5 separate regions of the Homo sapiens genome follow, and all the other regions are linked to region 1. The links come from fine-mapping of genetic effects on gene expression. A gene starts in region 1. Each other region holds a variant in brackets. All regions are shown on one strand. Distances are from middle to middle.

Region 1 (5,104 bases):
AATGTGTATAAAAACTACGAAGGGCTGCATGCAGTTTGGTTAGAAACTCTGGGGGAACAAAACAGAGTGGTAGAAGACATTTCTACCAGATTCTACAACCAGGTCAAAGTAGTAAAGGAAAAAAAATCAGAAGTTAGAGCATCAGAATATTCAATGGTTTCTCTAGAGAAAATTAATACCCTTGGGCAGTTTACGAAATAAAATGAAACTCGTCAGGCCAGCAGTAGTACCTTCTATACTAATACTCCTGACTATATTTATATAAAATTTATAACTTTTAAGGTGCTTTTATATATGTATCACCTTCAATCCTCACACATCAACCCACAAGGAAAGGGAAAGATTAGGCCCATTTTATACATCTTTTTTAAGTTCAAAAAGGCAATGTAATAGTGGCAAGAGGACAGGATTTGGTGTCACAAGTGCTGCCACTTTCTACTATATAACCTAGGAAAAATCATTTTACCTAAGGTTATTTCAGCTTCCTCATCTGTAAGATAACGATGATGATCAATACCTGCTCTACTGAATGCCAATAAGAAAATCTGTGTGAAATCAACGTAAAGTACTAAAACAAACATTAGTATTGATTTGACCAACATTAGAAAGTTAAATAGCAGAGCCAGAACCAGATTTGGGGTCTTCTGACCACTATAGTCTAGTGCTCTTTTTACTATTCCATCCTACAGTAGAAAAATAAGCTTTCATTTATATAAGCTTTCAAAAGTTTCAGCCATAGGTGAAAACAAATCTTTAAAACAAAAAAACCCTCCCAAAACATACATTGATTCCTATGACATTTTTCTGCATTTTCAGCATTTGTATAAAGAGCGCGAACTATATCTATAATCAGGGAAAATAACTTGAAAATGCTAAGTATCTAGATTAATTTTACCTTTTCTTATTCTTCAGGAGAGATGACTCTTTTTCTTTAGGAAAGGATTACACCTGTAATCCTAGCAATTTGGGAGGTCAAGGCGGGCGAATCGCTTGAGGTGTGGAGTTCGAGACCAGGCTGGACAACTTGGCAAAAGCCCGTCTCTACTAAAAATACAAAAATTAGCTGGGCATGGTGGTGCGCGCCTGTCATCTCAGCTGCTTAGGAGGCTGAGGCATGAGAATTGAATGCACCAGGGAGGCGGAGGTTGCAGTGAGCCGAGATTGCACCACTGCACTCCAGCTTGGGTAAGGGAGTGAGACTGTCTCAAAAAAAAAACATAATAATAATAATAAATAAATAAATCGCTTGAGTTCTGGAGTTGGTAAGCCTGGGCAACATGGTGATACCCCATCTCCACAAAAAATACAAAAATTAGCTGGAGCTGGTGACGTCCACCTGTGGTCCTAGCTACTCAGGAGGCTGGGGTGGATCACCTAAGCCAGGAGAGGTCAAGGTTCAAGTGAGCCATGACTGCGCCACTGCACTCTAGCCTGGGCGACAGTGAGACTCTGCCTCAAAAAAAAAAAAAAAAAAAAAGAGGAGGAAGGTACTAAACCATGTTTCCACAACCAGATAAATAACGGAAGAAGCAAACTATGGATCAAAAGTACAGATTGTATTTCTCAAGGGTTCAACTATTCTGTCCCTACTGGAGGAAAGTGGCGGCAGAGAATCTAAATGTCAACATATTCTTTAGGCCAGAACAAAAATATTAGACACAAAGAATAAGAAAACACCAAAGAGTGTAAATACAATAATTACAGAAAAAAGTGTGTATACGCAGGTCATAAGAAATGTGTTTATGCAATTCCGGTATCTTTCCAGAATTCAATTCTTAAACCACACATACAAAAGATAAACTGTAAATAAATATCAATAAGTAACTAGAAAAGTCCATTTGCCATTTATTTACCTTTGACCTTAAAATCCTTGTCTGTTTCAAGCACAGTCAGCCCTTCTACTGGGTTACACATTCACAAGTTGCTAGAACACAGTCTCAAGTTCATAGTGATTTTTGTTGTGGGGGTGGTCAATGAAAGGCTGATGACCCCAAGCAGCCCGGGCTGGCACCGGGTAGTAATTCTACACTCAGTAAATATACAAAGATACCAAAGCCTACTTGTTACCACAGGTCCAGCAAGTAGGCCCAAGATAAAAACTGCCCAACGACGCCCTTGCTGAGCAGACTTAGAAAGACGCCCACAAAACCTCAAGACCAAGCAAAGCAAAGCCACCTCACCTGCCCAAAGGTAACCAATCCGAAAAGAGCGGGGCCGCCCCGTGGGCCTGGAAGGCAGCCCCAGCCCCAGACTCCTCTCACTTCCCGCCTCTGCCGTTGGCTAAGTAACTGAGGAGCCTCGCGTGTCACAGAGGAGTGTGACATCACCCGCCCGCCAGGCCCTACCTCGAGTCTTGGCTCCGGGCCGCTCACCCAGGGTCAGCCCGACCAAAGGACCCGCCCGCAGCCGAACAGCAATCGGATGGGTGGAGTTTCGCGTTCCTTCACCTCGGAAGGACGTGCTCTGAATTCGAACGATCGAAGCTAGGCCAAGGGGCCCTGCGTCTACACTTAGTAGAGGAGAAGGAGCGGGAGAAAGGAAAAGGCGGGCTGAGAAGGGGCCTTCGCCAGCGCTCTGGGGCAGAATAGAGGCCTCGACACCCCCCAAAACCCCCGCAGACTCGCCTCCGCCCCACCCCCGCTTCAGCACTGTTGCGCACGCGCAGCACTAGTTCCCTAGCTTCCCTCCACACCCTGTTTTCCCGAGTCTGGTCTCCGAGCAGGGCCTCGTTCCTTCAGGGTGCCATCTGTCCGCAGAAGGAAGCTACTGCCACTCTTGCTCAGACAGTAACTGCTAACTCCCTTTCCATTTCTCACTCCCAGTTCGCCCAGTACTAGGTTCAGACGTACCTTCCTAACCCGCCTCTCCAAGGCCTACCAGCGCTTCTAACACCGGATGTGCTCTGACTCGCCCACTTCCGCTCCCGATCTTTTACCCGGCGTTCGCCTCTCGAGGGAAACCCCGCCCTGTGGTCCGCTTAAGACCAGTCCTCATTGGCCGTTGGCCGCACTCCTGCCTTTCCATTGGCTGTACGTGCATAAACAGCGGCTGCTTAGTTCAGAGGCCTGAGCTTGTCGATCAAGACTACTGGCCACCAACCGCCTCGAAGCAAAAGGTCTCCGCTTTCTTACCGTAGTAAGCCAGGGTCACGGTGCGCTGCTGCCTCTAGTGGAGAAAGTGAAAATGGGCCGGCCCCGCCCGGGACAGCCCGACGGCTTGTGAAGGGGTAGCGCTGCAGTCTTGGGATTCTGGCTTTAGTCTTGTCATGCAGTGTTAAAGGGGGAAAGCGATTCAGAGAACACATTAAAAAAAAAAAAAAAGCGCCCTCGCAAGGGGCGATTTACTGTGAAACTAGTGGAGCGTAAGCTTCAGAGCACCTTTGAAAACACTTCGATTTCTCTAGAGTATGCGAGAAGGAAATAGCAGGATTCCAGGAGGAAAACCAGAATTTAGGAAACCACTTTCTGGAAAGATAGAACAGTTCTTTTCAGTAAAGAATACAAATATCCAGGGTATGATTCTCAGTAGGCAAACCCAGGTATGCAATTAATAGAAGTTAATTTTCGGCTGGGCGTGGTGGCTTACGTCTGTAATCCCAGCACTTTGGGAGGCTGAGGTGGGCAGATCACTTGAGGCCAGGAGTTTGAGACCAGCCTGGCTAACATGGTAAAACCCCATCTCTATTAAAAATTTAAAAAATTAGCTGGGCGTGGTGGCGTGTGCCTGTAATCCCAACTACTCGGGAGGCTGAGGCAGGAGAATTGCTTGACCCTGGAGGTGAAGGTTGCAGTGAGCCGAGATGGTGCCACTGCACTCCAGCCTGGGAGACAGAGCGAGACCCCGTCTCAAAAAAACCAAAAAAGTTAATTTTCTATAATACAACCTAATTTTTGCTGTAGTGTAGCAGGACAAGCCGCAGACAAAACCCCTCAGACACCGAGTTAAAGCAGGAAGCGGTTTATTCCGCCAGGAGCATCGGCCAAGACTCCTGTCTCAAGAGCTGAGCTCCCTGAGTGAGCAATTCCTGTCCCTTTTAAGGCCTCACAACTCTAAAGGGATCCGCTTGAGAGGGTAGTGATCGATTGAGCAAGCATGCACCGGTAATTAGATCAGAACAGGACAGGGATTTTCACAGTGCTTTTCTATACAATGTCTGTAATCTATAGATAACATAACCGATTAGGTCAGGGGTCGATCTTTAACTACGAGGCCCAGGGTGTGGTGCCTGGCTGTCTGCTTGTGGATTTCATTTCTGCCTTTTAGTTTTTACTACTTCTTTCTTTGGAGGCAGAAATTGGGCATAAGACAATATGAGGGGTGGTCTCCTCCCTTATTCCCCCACTTTGAGACTCTCACTCATTTTATTAGTGGGAGTTCTCACCTTCATCTTCACTACCTATGTCTTCCTGCATGACAGATCGATAGTGATTTATGTAGTACACTTGTGCTGAAGCATTCTGGTGAACTAGAGTAGTGATGAAACCTTTTACCATTTGAATGAGTACAGATAGTAAATAAGGGATCAGTAAGCAGGCTATTACTACTATAATTTTTATTATAAGAGTTTTAAATCCTCCTAGCACTGGGAACCATTTTTAAACATAGCTTCAGGGTCAAATCCGTGTCACACTTGTACAGGCACATGTGCCAGTTTCGTCATGTCTTTAACTATATCTTCGACTACTTGCCTCTGATCATCTATGTGCAGGCAGCAATTGGTAAGGTTAAATTTTCCACAGACTTCTCCTCGAACTAAGATATTTACTCGACGATCCAGTCCAGCCCTGTCGATTCCTAAGGTCACACGCTCCCCTTTTTTTCCAGCGAGGATCAAGGGGATTGGTTATTACTAGCTCTAAGGGGTTACATTGTCCCTTAGTACAGGAAGAGCCATTTTTTCCTTTCTGAAGGTGGACTGGATCCTTTTCATTTTTTATCCAAGTGGCCTAAATGACACAAGACCAGTATCCACATTCATTTTCACACAGTCCTCATTCATGACAAATGTACTTATTTTCGGTCATATAGCCTTTTTCCCAACTAAAAGAGCCACATCCCCTTCCTAACTTATTGCTATTAATGACAGCACAGGCATCAAACTTCA
Region 2 (5,104 bases), 380 kb after region 1:
CTCAGCCTCCTGAGCAGCTAGGATTACAGGCATGTGCCACCCCGCCCGGCTAATTTTGTATTTTCGGTAGAGACAGGGTTTCTCCATGTTGGTCAGGCTGGTCTCGAACTCCTGACCTCAGGTGATCCACCTGTCTCAGCCTCCCAAAGTGCTGGGATTACAGGCATGAGCCACCGCGCCCGGCATACTGTGTATGTTTTACTTCACAATAAAACATTTATCGTCACCTGCCTTGAAATAATTGCAAATTGTTCAAAGTGCATGTATAAATTATTTTGGAGGAAAATAAATGCTGCAATAAATGCAAAATATAATATTTGTGACCTACGCTGAAGAAAACACAAAAATAACCAAATTTCTGAAATGTTTAGCATAGATGTTAAGGGTTAAAAAAGAAAAAGATCATTTTCAAATGAGATCCATTAGCCTCTGTTCAGCCTTACGAAATTAATTTATCCCATGTTACTTAATGATCAAGTGCCAGAACTAGAATTAGAGAGAAATCATGACATAAGCTTCACCTTGGCAGATATATTCTGCAGGTATTAACCTGACCTAATTTGATATGTTTTCAAATGGATCCTTGACTTGATATTTTGTATCTTAAATAATTGATTGCCAGATTCCATGTTTTTATTAGGAAGAAAAAGAGGCCAACTAGAGCCTGAGAGGCACAAAAATTTAACTTATTATCTTGGAGACTTGATAACCAATGACTGTAATTAAGAAACATAATGTTTTAAAGTTTCCATTGACTGAAGCTGCAAGTGACAACAGGCACAAAAACCAGTAGAGAACAGCTCATAAGATTGTACTTTTCCTTTTGCCTATACTAACCCTAGTACCTAAGAATATTCATGTTAGCAGTCCAAAGTGTGCCTCAGAAAATTCGTTTCATGGGATACTAAATAGATGTTATCTGAGAAAACTATTCCATGTCCAATTAAGTTTGGGAAGCACAGGTTAAAATCAAGTTAAACTGGTGTATTTACTTCCCAGAATATTTAATATGATACCATGCTTTGTTCATATTGAAGCGAGCAGGCTATGTAGTGTGCAGCTTTCCCCAAGGAAGCTCTTCCCACTCCCATCCCCACCCCCAAGACTTTTTTGCAGAATTAATGTGTCTTTGAACATCCATTGTATAAAGTTCAATTAAAATGGTTTAATTAGGTCAGATTTCCCATTTTACAGATAACAAAACTGAGGCCCAAAAACAAGGCTAACATACCCAAATTTTCACTTGTGTATCAGATATTTAAAGCTGGGAAAGGCCTTAAACTATCAAAGGTTGAAGTGTTACATCACAAAATTATTGGCAATGCTGGACCCAAAACTCAGATCTGAAAAATTCAGTTCAATGTGAGCCTTGCAGGTTCATTAAGACTTGACTTTGATATTAAGTGAATTTGTCCTATGTGTAAGATAGTAACTAATATTGCTGTACTCTAAGTTCTTTTATTAAGTTTTTAAATTATCTTTCATTTATAGATTCTGTCACCACTTTAAAAAAATAGTATGCTTCACTTCTGTCAAATGTTTTATACTTCATAAAGCACTCTGTACACATTGTCTCATTTGATTGTCTGAACATTGTGTGGTGCAGGCATCATTGTCCTCATGTAACAAATGAGGAAACTGAAGCTCAAAATTTTTCAATAATTTACCTAGGTTGCACATTTAATAAATGTCCTGCTATTTACATTAGGAGAAGACACAGTCACTTGCCCTCAAGCAGCTTTGGTATAGTTAAGAAGAGAAGACTTGCAAACATGAGACAGAGAACAATTTATATGGCAACATGCAAGAAACTTATTGATAGAACAGTACAAACTAGATGGGAATACAGAAGGAATTCAAAGGGCAAAGATTACTAGAGGTGGAATTAATCAGCAAAGGCATCATTTAGGGATAAACCTTAAGCTAGGTCATAAAAGAAGTGTAAAGATTTGTATTAGCAAGGCTAGGCATGGTGGTTAATGCCTGTAATCCCAGCACTTTGGGAGGCTGAGGCCGGTGGCTCACCTGAGGTCAGGAGTTCGAGACCAGCCTGGCCAATATGATGAAATCCTGTCTCTACAAAAAATACAAATATATTAGCCTGGCGTGGTGGCGGGCGCCTATAATCCCAGCTACTCGTGAGGCTGAGGCACAAGAATCACTTGAACCCAGGAGGCGGAGGTTGCAATGAGCCAAGATCACACCACTGCACTCCAGCCTGGGCAAGAGCGAAACTCCATCTCAAAAAAAAAAAAAAAAAA[AG/G]ATTTAGCAGAGAGGAAAAATAATTATAGGAAAGAAGAAGAACATCAACCAAAGGCAGAAATATCAAAACAAACACATTGATGGAGAAGAATTAGAGCCTGAAGGGAGATGGGTCTGAAATGATCAGTCATCTTGGCTGTGCAAGAAAAGTCAACTGCTAAGACGAAGTAAGTTTGCAGGCACTGAATATCAAATTTACTGAATATTAAACGTACACTCTCTCCTGTGGTTCATGGGAGGGAAAGGGAGGAAAAAGCAAGAGAAACCACGTCTAAAGTGGGTAAGGATATGGAAGGAGGGGTGGGGGAGTAAAACAAGCCTCAGTGGCCCTCAGATCTGTGACTGGGAAACACCTGAACCAAAGACGTTTTATGTCCCACAACCCCTTCCCATTCTTTTCTTTTTTTTTTGAGACAGAGTCTCGCACTGTCACCCAGGCTGGAGTGCAGTGGCGCGATCTCAGCTCACGGCAACCTCCACCTCCCGGGTTCAAGCGATTCTCCTGCCTCAGCCTCCCAAGTAGCTGGGACTACAGGTGCGCCACCATGCCCAGCTAATTTTTTTGAAGTTTTAGTAGAGACGGGGTTTCACATGTTGGCCAGGATGGTCTCAATCTCTTGACCTCGTGATCCACCTGCCTTGGCCTCCCAAAGTGCTGGGATTACAGGCGTTAGTCACCGGCGCCAAGCCCCATTCCTTTTTTTTTTTTTAAGAGACAGGGTTCTCACTCTGTTGCCCAGGTTGGAGTGCAGTGATGGGATCATTGCTCACTGCAGCCTCCAGCTCCCAGGCTCAACTGGTCCTCCCATTGCAGCCTTCCCAGTGGCTTGGACTACAGGTGTGAGCCACCAGGCCTGGCTAATTTTTTTTTTTTTATAGAGATGGGGTCTCCCCATGTTGCCCAGGCCGGTCTCAAACTCAAGCAATCTTCCCCACTGGGTTCAAGTGATCCTCCTGCCTTAGCCTCTCAAAAGTGCTAGGATTATAGGCATCAGCCACTATGCCTGGCCTTTTTTTTCCCCACTCTTGAGACAGATTAATAAATTTCTTATTTATTTATTTGAGGCAGGGGCTTGCTCTGTTGCCTAGGTTGGAGTACAGTGGCAGAATCATAACTCACTGTAGCCTCAAACTCCCGGGCTCAAGTGATCCCCCCGCCTCCGCCCATCATCACACCCAGCTCCCGTTCCTTTTCTGGTACTAATTCACCTGAAATGTGCCTGAGCCATTGATTCTAGGAAAAATGCCCTTTTAGGTGTTGCTTGCAAAGCCAGGCTCACATGCTGACTCAGTCACTGCCCAGCAGATGTTCCCCACAACATTTCTCAACCCAGAATTGGGACTGAGGTCTGGCACAGAATGGGTTAAAAGATTCCCTTCTGGGCTGGGAGTGGTGGCCTGTAATCCCAACACTTTGGGAGGGCAAGGCGAGCAGATCACCTGAGGTTGGGAGTTCGAGACCAGCCTGACCAAAATGGAGAAACCCCCGTCTCTACTAAAAATACAAAATTAGCTGGGTGTGGTGGTACATGCCTGTAATCCCAGCTACTCAGGAGGCTGAGGCAGGAGAATCGCTTGAACCCGGGAGGTGGAGATTGTGGTGAGCTGACATGGTGCCATTGCACTCCAGCCTGGGCAACAAGAGCGAAACTCCGTCTCAAAAAAAAAAAAAAAAGATTCCCTTCCAAGTTTCCCATACAGGGCACTGTTTTACTGCTTTGTTCTGTTGAAACTTGTCAGTAACGTTTAAACCCAGAAAGTCCAAGATCCTTGCTTAGAGTCATAATAGTTTGCAAATAACCAGATGGACTATGGAAAGGGTGAATGAGAGGTGGGGAAAAAGAAGAATAAGAAAGAAAAGAGAGAACAAATTATTGAAATGAAGTATCTTTAGCTGGAACCCTACATAAATTTTTTACTTTTATTGCTCAAAACTCATCTTAGCAAAAACAAAACAAAACAAAACAAAACAGTTGAACAACTTTTAATCCCTTGAGGCGACTAACAGAAATACTGCAGGGAACATGAAGCAAAAGAAAAACATTTTAAATCACCTTCTCAGGGTGGGAACTTCAAAAGCCAAAGCACTGGCATGAGATGTGCGTTCAAAGTTCTAACATGAAATAGACAGCTCTAGATTCCCCTAGGAGATTAAATGACAACTGAAAAGCATGCTTCAGTTGGAGCTTGCTTTGAATAACACCCCAAATCCAACTTCACAGTTGCTTGCTCCTTCTCAGCAAAAGGAGAGGACTGAACTCTGGTAATGAACCTGCTATGGAGGTGCCACTACCACATTTTTTTTTAAGTGAAGGGGACAGCCGAGGGACATATTTTACCATGACAGCCTTGTAGCGCCATCTGCAGTTCCTAGCTAAGACTACAACAAACCACACGTCTCCAGGCTTGTTAGGACCACCCCACTGTTCAAGAGAAAAGAAAACTAAGACATAGAGTACTAAAGTCAGTGAGTCCTCAAAAGCCTCCTGGGTCCTAGAGTAGATGCAAACATAGCTCTAAGACACAGTGCCTAGGAAAAGATCTAAGGGCCTCAGTTGACTATAAACTCAATGAGTCACACTTACATAGCAACCAAAAAAAGCTAGTAAATTTTTAGGCTGCTGGATTTAAAGGATGATATATTGTTCAGACCTTGAGAACGTAACAGCCCCACAGTACCCCGTTCTGTCTGAACACGTCTCAGAATTGCATTTAGTTCTGGGCACCACAATTTAAGAGCAATATTGACAAGAGCTATAAAAAATGTTCATACCCTTTGACCCAGTAATCCCACCCATGGGAATTTATTCTAAGGAAATAATTCAAGAGAAGAGATGAATTA
Region 3 (5,104 bases), 22 kb after region 1:
CCCAAAGTGCTGGGATTACAGGCATGAGCCACCGTGCCCGGCTTTATCATGGTGAAACCATGTCTCTACTAAAAATACAAAAAATTAGCTGGGCGTGGTGGCGGGTGCCTATAGTCCCAGCTACTTGGGAGGCTGAGGCAGGAGAATCGCTTGAACCCAGGAGGCGGAGGTTGCAGTGAGCCGAGAATGCACCACTGCACTCCAGCCTGGCGACACAGCGAGACTCCGTCTCAAAAAAAAATTAATTTATAAAAAAGGTATTCCACATTATATCTCATCAGGGATATACTAATTAAAAGTACAATTAAATACTACTGTGCACCTCTTAGAATGGCCCAAATTCAGAACATTCACAACACCAAATGCTGGTAAACATGTGGAGCAATGGAAACTCTCATCCATTGCTGGTGGGAATGCAAAATAGTACAGATACTTTGGAAGAGAGTTCCGCAATTTCTTAGAAAACTAAGTATACCACAGCCATAAAAAAGAACAAAATCATGTCCTTTGCAGCAACATAGATGCAAGTGGAGGCCATTATCCTAAGTGAACTAACACAGGAACAGAAAACCAAATACTGCATATTCTCATAAGTGTGAACTAAATATTGGGTACTCGTGGACATAAAGATGGCAACAATAGACACTGGGGACTACTAGAGGGGGTGGGAGGGAAGGGGCAAGGGTTGAAAACTATTGGGTACTGATATGGTTGGTGGGAGGGAAGGGGCAAGGGTTGAAAAACTATTGGGGTACTGATATGGTCCCACCCAAATCTCATCTTGAATTGTAATTCCCACAATTCCCATGTGGAAGGAACCTGGTGGGAGGTAGTTGAGTCATGGGGGCAGGTCTTTCCTGTGCTGTTCTCCTGATAGTGAATAAGTATCATTGGATCTGATGGTATTATAAGGGGGAGTTTCCGTGCACAAGCTGTCTCTTTGCCTGCTGCCATCCATGTAAGATGTGACTTGTTCCTCCTTACCTTCCGCCATGATTGTGAGGCTTCCCCAGCCACGTGGAACTGTAAGTCCATTAAACCTCTTTCATGAATTGCCCAGTCTTGGATATGTCTTTATCAGCAGTGTGAAAACAGACTAATACAGGTACTATGCTCACTACCTGGGTGATGGGATCAATTGTAACCCAAACCTTAGCATCATGCAATATACTCATGTAACAAACCTGCACATGTACCCTCTGAATCTAAAATAAAAGTTAAAATTATTGTAAAAAAGAAAATTAAACGTCCTCTTACTGTACAATCCAGCAATCATGCTCCTTGGTATTTATCCAAAGGAGTTGAAAACTTATGTCCATATAAACATCTGCACATGGATGTTTCCAGGAGCTTTATTCATAATTACCAAAACTTGGAAGCAACCAAGATGTCCTTCAGTAGATGAATGGATAAATTGTGGTACACTCAGACAATGAAATACTATTCAGTGCCATAAAGAAATGAGCCATCAAGCCATGAAAAGGCACAGGAGTCATTTAAATGCATATGTCAACCTAAATAACAAACAGGAGAGGCTTCCCAAAAGAAAATGATATTTATTTGGGAATAGAGCATTGCAATGAGAATACATGTGCCATAGTAACCTATATGCATATTCAGGAAGGTAAAGGAAGACAAAGGTTTTCAAAGGAAAAAATGAGGATTACATAATTATTTTGAAATAATTATCCTTGGCTACAAAGATCAATAACAAGGCCGACACCAGTCTGAGGTTGGACAAGCAATTGCTGGGCAGATGTCTTTGCAGCAGTATTTTTTTTGTGAAAGGTTGTGGTGGCCTTTGTGCAAAACTGTGGCTTTTGTAGAATCTTTTTTGTTATCAGTTATACATGCGTGAGAACCCTCTCTTTAAGGTCTTCCTCAGCTCTATTTCTAAGGGTTTTCTTCACAGTGTTTTCTGGTTATGAGATGCTAGATGGTGTTCAAGATGTTTTAAATGTATTAACTCATTTAATCTTTGCAATCACCCTGGGAAGTAGGAACAATGACTACATTACAGATGACGAAAAGGCTCATTCAGTTTGTCCAAGGTCACAGAGCTTGAATTTGAGCTCTGGTGACTGTTCTGGAGCCCATGCTCTTAATCATTATGCTATGCTGCCTCTTGTGGCACAATTGGCATGTATTGGTAAGCATAACTTTGCAAAGTTTTGTGGTTTTTAACAAATAAATAAAACCTTTAAAGGAAAATGGCAGTTGGACTTGACTTTAAAGGCTGTGGGGGGAGTAAGAAGGTAGAGGGGAGGAAGGTAGGAAAATAGCCACAGATCTGCTTTCCCAAAGTTAGGAGGTGGTGTGGCAGAGTGAGAGATAAAAAGCAGATTAAATCCCTCAGCCCAGGGCAAGGATGGAGAGGAGAACCAGTGGAAGCAATTTGGGAATGACCTCGAGGTCCTCGTCTAAATTTTTTTTTTTTTTGTTTTT[GT/T]TTTTTGAGACGGAGTCTCGCTCTGTCGCCCAGGCTGGAGTGCAGTGGCATGATCTCGGCTCAGAGCAACCTCCGTCTCCCGGGTTAAAGCAATTCTCCTGCCTCAGCCTCCCAAGTAGCTGGGACTACAGGCGTGCACCACCATGCCTGGCTAATTTTTTTTTTTTTTTAGTAGAGACAGGGTTTCACCATGTTGGCTAGGCTGCTCTTGAACTCCTGACTTCAGGTGATCTGCCCACCTCAGCCTCCCAAAGTGCTGGGATTATAGGCATGACCCACTGTGCTTGGCCTCTTCCTTTCTTTCTTTCCCTTCTTTTTCTTTCTCTCTCTCTCTTTCCTTCCTTCCCTCCCTCCCCTTTCTTTTTCTTTCTTTCTCTTTCTTTCTCTCTCTTTCTCTCACTCCTTCTTTCCCTCCCTTCTTTCTCTCTCTCCTTTCTTTCTCTTTCTTTCTCTCTCTCTTTCTCACTCCTTCCTTCCCTCCCTTCTTTCTCTCTCTCTTCTTTCTCTTTCTCTCTTTCTCTCTCCTTCCTTCCCTCCCTCCCTTCTTTCTCTCTCTCTCTCTCTCTCTCGCTCTGCCACCAGGCTGGAGTGCAGTGGCACAATCATGGCTCACTGCAGACCTGACCTCCTGGGCTCAAGCGATCCTCCCATGTCAGCCTCCTGAGTACCTGGGACTACAGGTGCATGCCACTGTACCTGGCTAATTTCTTTTGTAGAGAAAGGGTCTTGCTATGTTGCCCAGGCTGTTCTTGAACTTCTGGACTCAAGTGATCCTCCAGCCTTGGCCCCGCAAAGTGTTGGGATTACATGTGTGAACCATTGCCCCCTGCCAATATCTCCCACCTTTCCTTGTCTACTTTTATAACCCTCCTTCTGATCCCTCCTTTTCATTTCAAATGCACTGATCTTGTTCTGGCCAATGGTTATGAGAAAAAGCAGCTAACAGAAATGAAACACACTGAAATCCAAACCATCTCTCTCTCTCACACACACACACACACACACGCACATCTTTTTTGAGACAGAATCTCACTCTGTTGCCCAGGCTAGAGTGCCGTAGTGTGATGACAGCTCACTGCAGGCTTGACCTCCCAAGCTCAAGTGATCCTCCTACCTCACCCTCCCAAGTAGCTGGGACTATAGATATGTTCTACTGGTTAATTTGTTATACTTTTTGTAGAGACCAAGTATTGCCATGTTGCCCAGGATGGTCTCAAACTCTTGGGCTCAAGCAATCTGCCCGCCTCAGCCTCCCATCCTCCCAGAGTGCTGGGATTACAGACGTGAGCCACTGTGCCTGGCCCTATATTTTTAAAATTTATTTTATTTTCTTCTTCTTCTTCTTCTTTTTTTTTTTTGAGACAGAGTCTCGCTCTGTCGCCCAGGCTGGAGTGCAGTGGCTCAGTCTCGGCTCACTGCAAGCTCCGCCTCCCAGGTTCACACCATTGTCTTGCCTCAGCCTCCCAAGTAGCTGGGACTACAGGAGCCCACTACCACGCTTGGCTAATTTTTTGTATTTTTATTAGAGACAGGGTTTCACCGTGTTAGCCAGGATGGTCTCGATCTCCTGACCTCGTGATCCGCCCACCTCGGTCTCCCAAAGTGCTGGGATTACAGGCGTGAGCCACCACACCCGGCCTTTATTTTATTCTTAATTTTTGAAAAATCGCTATCATTTTTTGAGACTGGGTCTCACTTTGTTGCCCAGGCTAGAGTGAAGTGGTGCAATCATGGCTCCCTGCAGTCTTGAACTTCTGGTCTCAAGTGATTCTCCCACTTCAGCCTCCCAAGTAGCTGGGACTACAGGTGTGTGCCATGGACCCGGCTAACTTTATTTTTAATTTTTTTGTAGAGATGGGATCCCACTGTTGCCCAGGCTGGTCCTCAACTCCTGGACTTAAGCAACTCAAGCAACTCAAGCAATTCTCCAGCCTTGGCCTCCCAAAGTGTCAAGATTATAGGCATGAGCCACTATGCCTGGCCGTTGTTTTTTTTTTTTTTAACTTATTTTTAATTGAGCTGTTTGTTTTTCCTTTTCTTTTTCTTTTCTTTTTTTTGCAGAGGCTGCTTAACACCTGTTGCTATTGAGTTGGGTGTTTGTTTTCTTTTTCTTTTTTTTTTGAGATGGAGTCTCACTCTGTCACCTAGGTTGGAGTGCATTGGTGCAATCTCGGCTCACTGCAACCTCCACTTCCCAGGTTCAAGTGATTCTCCTGCCTCAGTCTCCTGAGTAGTTGGGATTACAGGCACGCACCACCACTCCCAGCTAATTTTTGAATTTTTTAGTAGAGACGGGGTTTCATCATGTTGGCCAGGCTAGTCTCGAACTCCTGACCTCAAGTGATTCACCTGCCTTAGCCTCCCAAAGTGGTGGGATTACAGGCGTAAGCCATTGCGCCCAGCCAGGTGTTGAGAGTTCATTATATACTCTGGATACAAATCCTTTGTCAGATAGGTGATTTGCAATATTTCCTCCCAGTCCTAGCTTGTGATTTGTTTTTAGTTCTCCTAACAGTAGTTTTCAAAGAGCATTAATTTTTAATTCTGATAGAGTATAATATATCAATTGCTCTTTTATGGATTGTGCTTCTGGAATCATAGCTAAGACATTTTGCCTAAACCAAGTTGCAGAAAAGATCAAATCGTAGCCTGAAGGAG
Region 4 (5,104 bases), 530 kb after region 1:
AATGTAATTGTCATACCTAATAAATTAACAATTTCTTGGTCCATATTCAAATTTCCCTGATTACCTCAAAATAAATTATTTTGTAATTGGTTTGTTTGAATTAGTATCCAAATGAGGAGAACACATTATTTTGGTTATGTCTCTTTTATTTTATTTTATTTATTTATTTATTTTCAAAAAGAATCTCACTCTGTCACCCAGGCTGGAGTGCAATGCCGTGATCTTGGCTCACTGCAACTTCTGCCTCCCGGGTTCAAGCTATTCTCCTGCCTCAGCCTCCCGAGCAGCTGGGACTATAGGTGGGCCCCACCACGGCCCAGCTAATTTTTGTATTTTTAGTAGAGACTAGGTTTCACCATGTTGCCCAGGCTGGTCTCAAACTCCTGACCTCAAGTGATTTGCCCACCTTGGCCTCCCAAAGTGCTGGGATTACAGGCGTGAGCCGTCAAGCCCGGCTTCTTGTCTTTTAATCTGAAGCCATTCCTCTTCCATTTTTTTTAAATCCCCATGCCATTGTCCTGTTGAATAAACTGGGTCAGTTGTTGATATAGTTTGGATATTTGTCCCCGCCCAAATCTCATTCTGTGTTCTCACTTATAAGTGGGAGCTAAAAGATGAGAACACATGATCACATAGAGGGGAACAATACACACTGGGGCCTACTGGAGGGTGGAGGGTGGGAGGAGAGAGAGGATCATGAAAAATAACTAATGGATACTAGGCTTAATACCTGGGTGATGAACTAATCTGTACAACAAACCCCCATGACACATGTTTACCTATGTAACAAACCTGGGCATCCTGCACACAAACTCCTGAACTTAAAATAATAAGTTAAAAAATAATAATAATAGCCGTGCATGGTGGCTCACGCCTGTAATCCTAACACTTTGGGAGGCTGAGGCAGGTGGGTCACTTGAGATCAGGAGTTCGAGACCAGCCTGACCAACATGGTGAAACCTCGTCTCTACTAAAAATACAAAAATTAGCCAGGTGTGGTGATGCACATCTGTAATCAGCTACCCAGGAGGCTGAGGCAGGAGAATTGCTTAAACCTAGGAAGCGGAGGTTGCAGTGGGCCAAGATCTTGCCACTACACTCCAGCCTGGGCAACAGAGTGAGTGAGACCCTGTCTCAAATAATTATAAAAATAGGCCGGGCACAGTGGCTCATGCCTGTAATCCCAGCACTTTGGGAGACCGAGGCGGGCGGATCACCTGAGGTCAGGAGTTCGAGACCAGCCTGACCAACATGGAGAAACCCCATCTCTACTAAAAATACAAAATTAGCCAGGTGTGGTGGCACATTCCTGTAGTCCCAGCTATTTGGGAGGCTGAGGCAGGAGAATCGCTTGAACCCAGGAGGCAGAGATTGCAGTGAGCCAGACAGTGTGCCACTGCACTCCAGCCTGAGCAACAAGAGCAAAACTCCGTCTCAAAATAAATAAATAAATAAAAATAATAATGATAAGTAATAATTTAAAAATTAAAAACAAAAATCAAATCTAGGGCCGGGCGTGGTGGCTCATGCCTATAATCCCAGCACTTTGGGAGGCTGAGGTGGGCGGATCACAAGGTCAGGAGTTCAAGACCAGCCTGGCCAGCATGGTGAAACCCCATCTCTACTAAAAATACAAAAGTTAGCCAGGCGCGGTGGCACACGCCTGTAGTCCCAGCTACTCAGGAGGCTGAGGCAGGAGGATTGCTTGAATCCGAGAGGCCGAGGTTACAGTGAGCTGAGATTGTGCCACTGCACTCCAGCCTGGGCGACACAGTAAGACTCTGTCTCAAAAAAAAACAACAACAGAAAAAAACAAAAACAAATCTCATGTTGAATCGTAATTCCCAGTGCCAGAGGTGGGGCTTGGTGGGAGGTGTTTGGATTATGGGGACAGATCCCGGGTGGCTTGGTGCTGTCTTCACAGTAGTGAGTTCTCTTGAGGAGATCTGGTTGTTTAAAGGTGTGTGGCACCTCCCTGCCCTCTTGTTCCTGCTTTCGCCATGTATTGGGGGCTCCCCCTTTGCCTGCCACCATGACTGTAAGCTTTCTCAGGCCTCCCCAGAAGCCGAGCAAAAGTCAGCACCATGCTTCCCATAAAGCCTGCAGAACTGTGAGGCAATTAAACCCCTTTTCTTTATAAATTACCCAGCCTCGGGGGTTTCTTTATAGCAATACAAGAACAGGCTGACACAGTTCTCTTTAAAATGGCCCACATTCGGAATTTGCTCATTTGCTTCTTGGTGGTTTATTTAACTTGCCCCTCTATTCTCCATATTACCTGTAAGAAGGTAGCTCGAAGCCTTCATCAGATCCGGATTCAAGGGTCTATCTCACAGGCC[G/C]TGCCGTGCGCTTCACACTGCATCACACGAGGAGGCACACAGTTTCCGGTTCTCCAGCTGTTAGAGATGCCGAGACTCATTAGCAGATTCAAGGTGTGACGGACTGGTGCCTTCATTGTAAAATGCCTCAACTTGCTTGTAATGGTATCATCCTTTGATGACCTTTACCTGAGTCAATTATTTGCTATTAAGGGGTGCGAAGTGGCAATTTTCGAATTCTGTACTTTTTTCTACATTTATTAGCTAAAATGATTTTGTAAAGAAGTGCTATTTGGTTGCCTGAAACATAGTTAATATGGAAAAGAGAAGATAAAGCTTAATTTCTTCCCTTTAAATTGCCAATTTTCAGAATATAGTGACAAATGAATGTTTTTTGTTTTCTGTCTTTAAAAATCTCATTATGAATTCATGATCTGAAAAATATGATCAGTGTGTCACTTTCAATTGCAGTAATGGTTCTTTTCAATGCGTATAGTGTCTTGTTTGGGGCCAATAATAGCTTCATGTTGGCTCCTGTAGCCTTTTGACAATCCCATTAATTTTTTGGATAACTTCTTTGCTTTCTGGCATAACAAGATGTACCAGGCACATTGTGCACATTTTATGCTTCAGACCAGGAATTAGCCATTTCTCCAAAAACCCCTGATTCATTATCTTCTAGAAGCTCTGAGTTTTTTTTTTTAAAGACCTGATTCTTTTTAGTAGAAAATAGTTTTTTAAAATAAATTTCTTTGTTGTAGAATAGTTTTTGATTTACAGAAAAATTGCAAAGATACATAGAAATTCCATATATCCAGTTTAACCTGTTATTAGTATCTTACATTAGTATGATATATTTTCCCCAAATAATGAGCCAACATTGATATATTATTATTAACTGAAGTCCATACTTTATTCGGATTTCTTTAGTTTTCTTTCTTTTTTTTCTTTTCTTTTTTTTTGTTTTGAGACAGAGTCTCACTGTTGCCCAGGCTGGAGTGCAGTGGCACGATTTCGGCTCACGGCAACTGCCGCCTCCCGGGTTCAAGCGATTCTCCCACCTCAGCCTCCCAAGTAGCTGGGATCACAGGTGTGTGGCACCACATCCAGCTAATTTTTTTTGTATTTTTTTTTTAGTAGAGATGGGGTTTCACCATGTTGGCCAGGCTGGTCTCAAACTCTTGACCTCAAGTGATCTGCCCACCTCATCCTCCCAAAATGTTGGGATTACAGGCGTGAGCTACCATGCCTGCCCAGAATAGTTTTTCGTTGTTGTTCCTTTGGTTTTGTTTTTTTTTTTTTAATTGAGATGGAGTCTCACTCTCACCCAGGCTGGAGTGTAGTGGCGCAATCTTGGCTCACTGCAATCTCCACCTCCCAGGTTCAAGCATTTCTCCTGCCTCAGCCTCTAGAGTACTGGATTACAGGCGCCCACCACCACACCTGGCTAATTTTTGTATTTTTAGTAGAGATGGGGTTTCACCATGTTGATCAGACTTGCTCGAACTCCTGACCTCATGGTCTGCCTGCCTCGGCCTCCCAAAGTGCTGGGATTACAGGTATGAGTTTCTTTCTTTCTTTCTTTTTCTTTCCCTTCCTTCCTTCCTTCTTTCCTTCCTTCCTTCTCTTTCTTTTTTTTTTCTTTTTGACGGAGTCTCGCTCTGCCGCCCAGGCTGGAGTGCAGTGGTGCAATCTCAGCTCACTGCAACCTCTGCCTCCCAGGTTCAAGTGATTCTCCTGCCTCAGCCTCCTGAATAGCTGGGACTACAGGCACGCACCAGCATGCCCAGCTAATTTTTGTATTTTTAGTAGAGACAGGGTTTCACCATGTTGGCCAAGATGGTCTCGATCTCATGACTCGTGATTCATGACCTCGTGATCTGCCCACCTCGGCCTCCCAAAGTGCTAGAATTACCGGCGTGAGCCACCACACCCGGCCTCTCTCTCTTTCTTTTTTTTTTTCTTTCTTTCTTTCTTTTAGCGAGTTGTGACCAACTTTTAAAAAGTGAAATCGAATTTAAAAAATAGAGTGTATTGTGTACAGTAAGAGTAAATATTATTTTGTTATAATATGAATGCAAAGTATACTTTTAACAATAGATGGATGGTCAACAAGTTTGGAAAAATGCTGAACTAGTGGACCATATATGATCTGCTTTACAAAATCACTAGAAAAATCTAAATGTAAGTTTAAATCTATATTTAGCATAAAAAATTATGCCAGAAGGCCTTAATTAGGATTAGAAGGATTAGAATTTAGGCTGCTTGGGTTTGAACTCTGGCTTTATTATTTACTTGGTGACATTTGGCAACTTAATTAAACTTTTTGTGCCTCAATTTTGTCATCTGTAAAATGGGATTAATTATAATATCTATCTCTGAAAGTTGTGGTGAAGAATAAATGAGTTAATACAAATATAATACCCAGAACACAGCCTGGCACATAGTCATAACTTTAAAATGTTAGTTATTATTATAGATGTTCTCAGTTCATTTAGCAATACAAGTCAAGATTTTTAAATCCTATTTTTCTAATAATTACCATTTAAAGTCAGATCGTAAGGCTTCTCACTTGTTGTAACTAAACCAGTCATCTACAGATTTCAATAAAGATCCTTTAGGTAATCATCTCAGAAATGAAAAGCTAACCACAAACACTGTAATGAGAAAACTGTGCTATTCCTGCAACCTGCTTTGTGCCTTTTTTTGTAGGCAATCCGGATATATCCAATCTTCTGAAAAGATTGGATCCTACTATAGCCTGCCCTGTGTTAGATGGTGAACAT
Region 5 (5,102 bases), 23 kb before region 1:
TCAGTAACTGTTGACTTACCCCCTCCATTTCCTACTAGTTTCCTCCAACTTTCCTAGTTAGCAAAACCTGTTTTTGCAGCTCCTTCCTTGCACTCCCCATGCTGGAGCGTACTCCTGTCTTTCCTCGTGCTGATCCCTTGATCAGAAACATCCACTCCCACTGCCTTTCTTAATCTCTTCACTTGCCTCACTTTGACTCAAACTTTGAGATTTAGACTTAGCTGAGGTGTCATCTACAAAGCACTTTCTCTGACCGACCAGACCAGGCTGTGTCTCCTGCTGTTGTCTCATGGCCCACTATGCTTAACTCCTATTCACATGTAATGTTCACATGTGGCTCTCCAGCACTACTCAGTGGTGAAGGACTCCAAGGCAGGAACTGTCTTCTACATCTTTATCCCCAGCTTAAACAAGACAGATCCCCTCATCTGCTCACCATGCTTAGAAAGAACATATTGTTTCTTGGCTGGGCGTGGTGGCTCATGCCTGTAAGTAATCCAGCACTTTGAGAGGCCGAAGTGGGCAGATCACTTAAGGGCAGATCACTTGAGGTCAGGAGTTCGAGACCAGCCTGAGCAACATGGGGAAACCCCCTTTCTACTAAAAATATGAAAAATTAGCTGGGCATGGTGGCATGCACCTGTAATCTCAGCTACTGGAGAGGCTGAGGCAGGAGAATTGCTTGAACCCAGGAGGTGGAGGTTGCTGTTAGCCAAGATCACGCCATTGCACTCCAGCCTGGGCCAGAGTGAGACTCCATCTCCAAAAAAAAAAAAAAAATACTGTTTCTTCTTTCAACCCAGAGGACCTTCCACTTCTGCCGCCCACTAGGGTCTTCCTTGGTCTAGTTTTGGCCTGCAGGTCTCCTACACATGGAAAGAGCTGCTGTTTGTTATCCTCTTCCATTTAATTGGTAATTGGTGGGCTGGCTGGGGGAAGAAAGACTAAAAAGGCCGCTCACTCTTCTACGTTTCTTTGGTTACAAAGATTTGGGGTGGGGAGATTTTGCTCAAACCCCTTCACAATTTCCCTTTCCACCCTTGGCCAGAGCCATAGCCAGGATGTAGGTCAGGATGGAAAGGATGACTCCAGCCCAGGAGGACTAACCTTAACACTGCTTACATAGGTTAACAGTAAAGGATAGGGGCTCTGGAGATAGTGTGCCTAGATTCTTTCTGGGCACACATCTGCCAGCCCTGGAAGTAACTGACCGTACGTAGTAAATACACCATCTTCTTAAACTACTGGGGATGTTAAGCAATCCATGTAAGGCACTTTGTACAGTGCCTGACCTTGTAAACACTCAAAAGGTGTTGCACCTTGTACTTCTCCCCTAGCAGATAAAATGGGGGCTTTAAAGAGTCTTTAGGACCAGTCTTTTCTCAAAGTCAGCAAGAGAGAAAAGATGCTTAAGGAATATTTCCCAAGCTTAAGGAAAATGGCTATCCTTAGTTGGCACGGGCACATGTGGAGTCCGAACAGGTCAACTGGGAGTAACCTAGATGAACCAGTCAGAATAATGGTCAAATTCTAACAGGAAGGCCTGGGTCTACAATGAATATGACAAGCGGAGAACAAGCATGGTAAAATTGAGCTACTAGGCTCGGCATGGTGGCTTAAGCCTATAATCCCAGCACTTTGGGAGGCTAAGGTGGATCGTTTGAGGAACACGAGTTCAACATAACCTGAGCAACATGGTGAGATCCCACCTCTACAAAAATTAAATCAGCGGGGTGCAGTGGCATGTTCCTGTGGTCCCAGCTACTCGGGAGGCTGAGGTGGATCACTTGAGCTCAGGTGACTGAGGTTGCTGTGAGCCATGATCGCATCACTGCACTACAGCCTGGGTGACAGGGCAAGACCATGACCCTGTCTCCAAAAATCAAAACAAAAACACAAACACAGAATTGAGCAACCTGATTGTAATGCAAGTTCCGATTGATAATCTCATATCTGAACTATGACAAGGACTTTTATTATTTTTTTGAGATGGGAGTCTCTGTCGCCTAGGCTGTAGTGCAGTGGTGCGCTCTCGGCTCACTGCAACCTCTGCCTCCCGGGTACAAGCGATTCTCCTGCCTCAGCCTCCCGAGTAGTTGGCACTGCAGGCGCCCACCACCATGCCGGGCTATTTTTTGTTATTTTTAGTTGAGACGGGGTTTCACCTTATTAGCCAGGCTGGTCTCAAAACTCCTGACCTCAGGTGATCCGCCTGCCTCGACCTCCCAAAGTGCTGGGATTACATGCGTGAGCCACCACGCCTGGCCGACTTTTTTTCTCTGTCACCCGGGCTGGAATGCAGTGGTGCATCTCAGCTCACTGCAACCTTCACCTCTCAGGTTCAAGTAATTCTCCTGCCTCAGCCTCCCAAGTAGCTGGGATTACAAGTGCCTGCCACTTTGCCTAATTTTTTTTTTTTTTTTTTTTTTTTGGTGTATTTAGTAGAGATGGGGTTTCACCATGTTGGCCAGACTGGTCTTGAACTCCTGACCTCGAGATCTGCCCACCTTGGCCTCCCAAAGTGCTGGGATTACAGGCATAAGCCACCATGCCTGGCCAACTTTTACATCTTTATTAACTAATGCACTTAGAATACAGCCGGGCAGCAGTGGGTGAACAAAAATACTTGCAGAATGAGTGGGTATCATTTGCCTTTTTTCCATTATGCATCCTCAAACTCCAAAGCTTGGCTGCACATCTGAACCAACTGCACATATCACCACAAACAACATATAGCAAAGGTGGCAGGGGGTGGAGAGGACTGGAAAAAAAACTGGCTTACATATTTGACAGAGAAAATTCTCAACATTTGTGGCATGCTGGGGCTACAGAGTGGGAGGTCTTTGTCTCTGTTCATACTTATGACACGAACTCAATCGTGTCCCACTCCCAGCCCCCAGTAGCAAACCCTGGCAGTATCACAAGCTCCATGACCAGCTGTACCCTTGAATTTAACACAAACACCAGGAAAGGTTAAGGAATTTTCTTTATTTTTTACAAATTAAGACTATGCAGATTTCATATATTTCTGAATCAAAAACACCTTTGTCTTCACAGTATGAGTTAGAATGCAGCCTGAGCTGAAAATCAAGAAACTAGAAAAGAAAGTGGTAGAGATAACTATATTAAAAATCTGTTAGGTATTTTCTTTAAAAGTAGGTGTTTTTTTTT[T/C]TTTCTTTCTTTTTTTTTTTTAATATCTTGTCATTCTTGGCACTGTTTCTAAAGAAAAACTCCATTATCCCAAGCAAAAAGCACAGAAGGTGGAGTTTGGCTTCAAGAGATGTTAACTCAAAATCTTAGGCCTAGCAGAGAATCACCAAATTTATGGAGAGTTAACAGGGGTTTAACAGGAAGGAAGTGCCTTTAGTAAGTTCTCAAGCCAGAGGCTGGAGGCAGCAGCTAAATCAGAGGACAGCATCCTCAGTGAAAGTGAGCCATTCGGGGTGGCATGTCACTCCAGGAATAAACACAACTTAGAAACAAATGATTTCGTAGGATAGCACAGTGACATGGTGCACTGTGAACCTGAGGCCACTGTGTCAAACTGTGCACTGGTTGTGAATAGGGAGAGCCAAAAATTATGTCCTACTGGTAATGAGCTTTCAATGGCTCGATCCTCTCACACTGAAGCTCTGTAGAGCAGCTCAGAGCCACAACCACTCCCAACATTGACCCTTCTGGGGGTAGCTGTCTGTGGCAGCCCACAGGAAGGAGCTGGAGATCCCCATTAGGACTGTCCACCCACACTTGAAGCCACAAAACTGCAGGGATTGGGGCTCTCACTGGTTTGGTCGCCTAACTCCCGCCTAAAAGGCCACAAATTTCTGGAAAACAGGTAACAGACCAAAAACTAAAGTGCATCAGTAAAATGAACATTTATCTACTGCCCCGAATCTCTGGCTTGACACTACCTACTGGTGTCCAGTTGGAGACAGACTAAAATGCACTGAAGGACTATTAGGATTGCTGCCTCCTAAGTTATCACAGCCTCGCTCTGTTGATGTGAATGAGGAACTGCTTGGTTGTTAAAGGAGATTTTGCTCCCTGCTGCCCCAAACAGGTCCTTATCTAGGTTTGCTCCCCACTGCCCCAAACAGGTCTGGCAGGATTGGTTACAATGATCTCCAGAGGCTCAACCATTCCCCTTCCCTATCCTTGCTTGGGACATTTAATCACAGCCACCTAGTAGAGGCCGCTCAGTAAGGGGATAACAAACTAAAAAAACAAAAACAGGGCAAGTTTAGGGGAACCCTACGATGCTGTACCTTGATACACATAATCAGCCTTTTCAAAAATGCCTGACAAGAATTAGTCTTTCCTTTGTGCTGAAGTCTTCCCACCCATGGATGGAAGCAGGCTGACTCCCTGAGGGTCAGGCAAGGGGTGGGAAAGGGAACACATTACTTTTGTGAAGGCAAAGCAGAAAGGTGTGTTTGCCAGACCAGCATGGGCAGCTCAGAGGGAGCAAAGCATCCACCAGAAGAGGCTCTCCATTTTCTTTGTAGGGCCTGACAGTTGAGATTTGAGGCTGAGTTAACAATGGGACCACTGAACTTCTTTCCAATGGAAAACTCACGGCCCAGTCCCACAGGAACTGTGCGCATACCAAACAACAATGAGGAAGGAAGGGCCGGGTGGCTCTACCAAACAGTTCAGGTCCACTGGGTGAATGAAGCCTGGTGGGAAAGCGGACTCCTGAAGTTGGCGCCCTCTGCTGGTCCCACTTCTCATCGTGGCGGGTCGACTGCCTGAGTAGAGGAAGAGGCTACAGATGGGGTTGACAAAAAAGGGAGTGAGGGGAACCCCAGGAAGATGAAGCCAAACTCCAAACTATATTCTGCTAATCAGTTTTTTGATCAAAAAATTCAAAATAGAGGAAACCACAAAGTACAAAAGCTTTTCTGATGCTTTTCATTATCACAGAACACACCACCTGTAATGTGTGCAAAAAGGAAATGAGGGGTGGAAGGAGAGGAAGTCTAATTGGGAAAGGCTGGATGGTCACTTCATTTCTTCTCTTTCTTCTTATCCTAGAAATGGAGAAAAATCACCCAATTAATTTTTTGACATTTGACATTCAAGCTAAAACTCTTGAGTGAGCA

The links. PIP is the estimated chance that this variant, and not a neighbour inherited with it, causes the effect. A credible set is the group of variants that fine-mapping cannot tell apart.
Region 2: its variant is the best candidate, but not a certain one, in a credible set for the expression of TMBIM6 in whole blood (INTERVAL, PIP 0.59).
Region 3: its variant is the best candidate, but not a certain one, in a credible set for the expression of TMBIM6 in whole blood (INTERVAL, PIP 0.53).
Region 4: its variant is the best candidate, but not a certain one, in a credible set for the expression of TMBIM6 in whole blood (INTERVAL, PIP 0.68).
Region 5: its variant is the best candidate, but not a certain one, in a credible set for the expression of TMBIM6 in whole blood (TOPMed, PIP 0.62).

Annotation. Positions count from the first base shown.
Region 1 is chr12:49,739,357-49,744,460 of GRCh38, reverse strand. TMBIM6 (transmembrane BAX inhibitor motif containing 6) reads right to left here and starts at 2,904. Exons shown (of 10, transcript NM_003217.3): 1 at 2,850-2,904. RefSeq lists enhancers at 2,648-2,967, 2,588-3,279, 3,208-3,337.
Region 2 is chr12:49,358,356-49,363,459 of GRCh38, reverse strand. No RefSeq gene overlaps it. Among named protein-coding and RNA genes, the nearest start is that of SPATS2, 6.6 kb to the left of the region's middle. The variant AG/G (reference allele first, on the strand shown) is at 2,262.
Region 3 is chr12:49,717,404-49,722,507 of GRCh38, reverse strand. All of the region lies in intron 2 of LOC124902929 (a long non-coding RNA gene), which reads right to left. Among named protein-coding and RNA genes, the nearest start is that of FMNL3, 13 kb to the right of the region's middle. The variant GT/T (reference allele first, on the strand shown) is at 2,446.
Region 4 is chr12:49,206,124-49,211,227 of GRCh38, reverse strand. No RefSeq gene overlaps it. Among named protein-coding and RNA genes, the nearest start is that of TUBA1A, 20 kb to the right of the region's middle. The variant G/C (reference allele first, on the strand shown) is at 2,340.
Region 5 is chr12:49,762,801-49,767,902 of GRCh38, reverse strand. It overlaps TMBIM6 (transmembrane BAX inhibitor motif containing 6), which reads right to left. Exons shown (of 10, transcript NM_003217.3): 10 at 2,969-5,030. The coding sequence ends at 5,007. Among named protein-coding and RNA genes, the nearest start is that of TMBIM6, 24 kb to the right of the region's middle. RefSeq lists a silencer at 1,331-1,531. The variant T/C (reference allele first, on the strand shown) is at 3,172.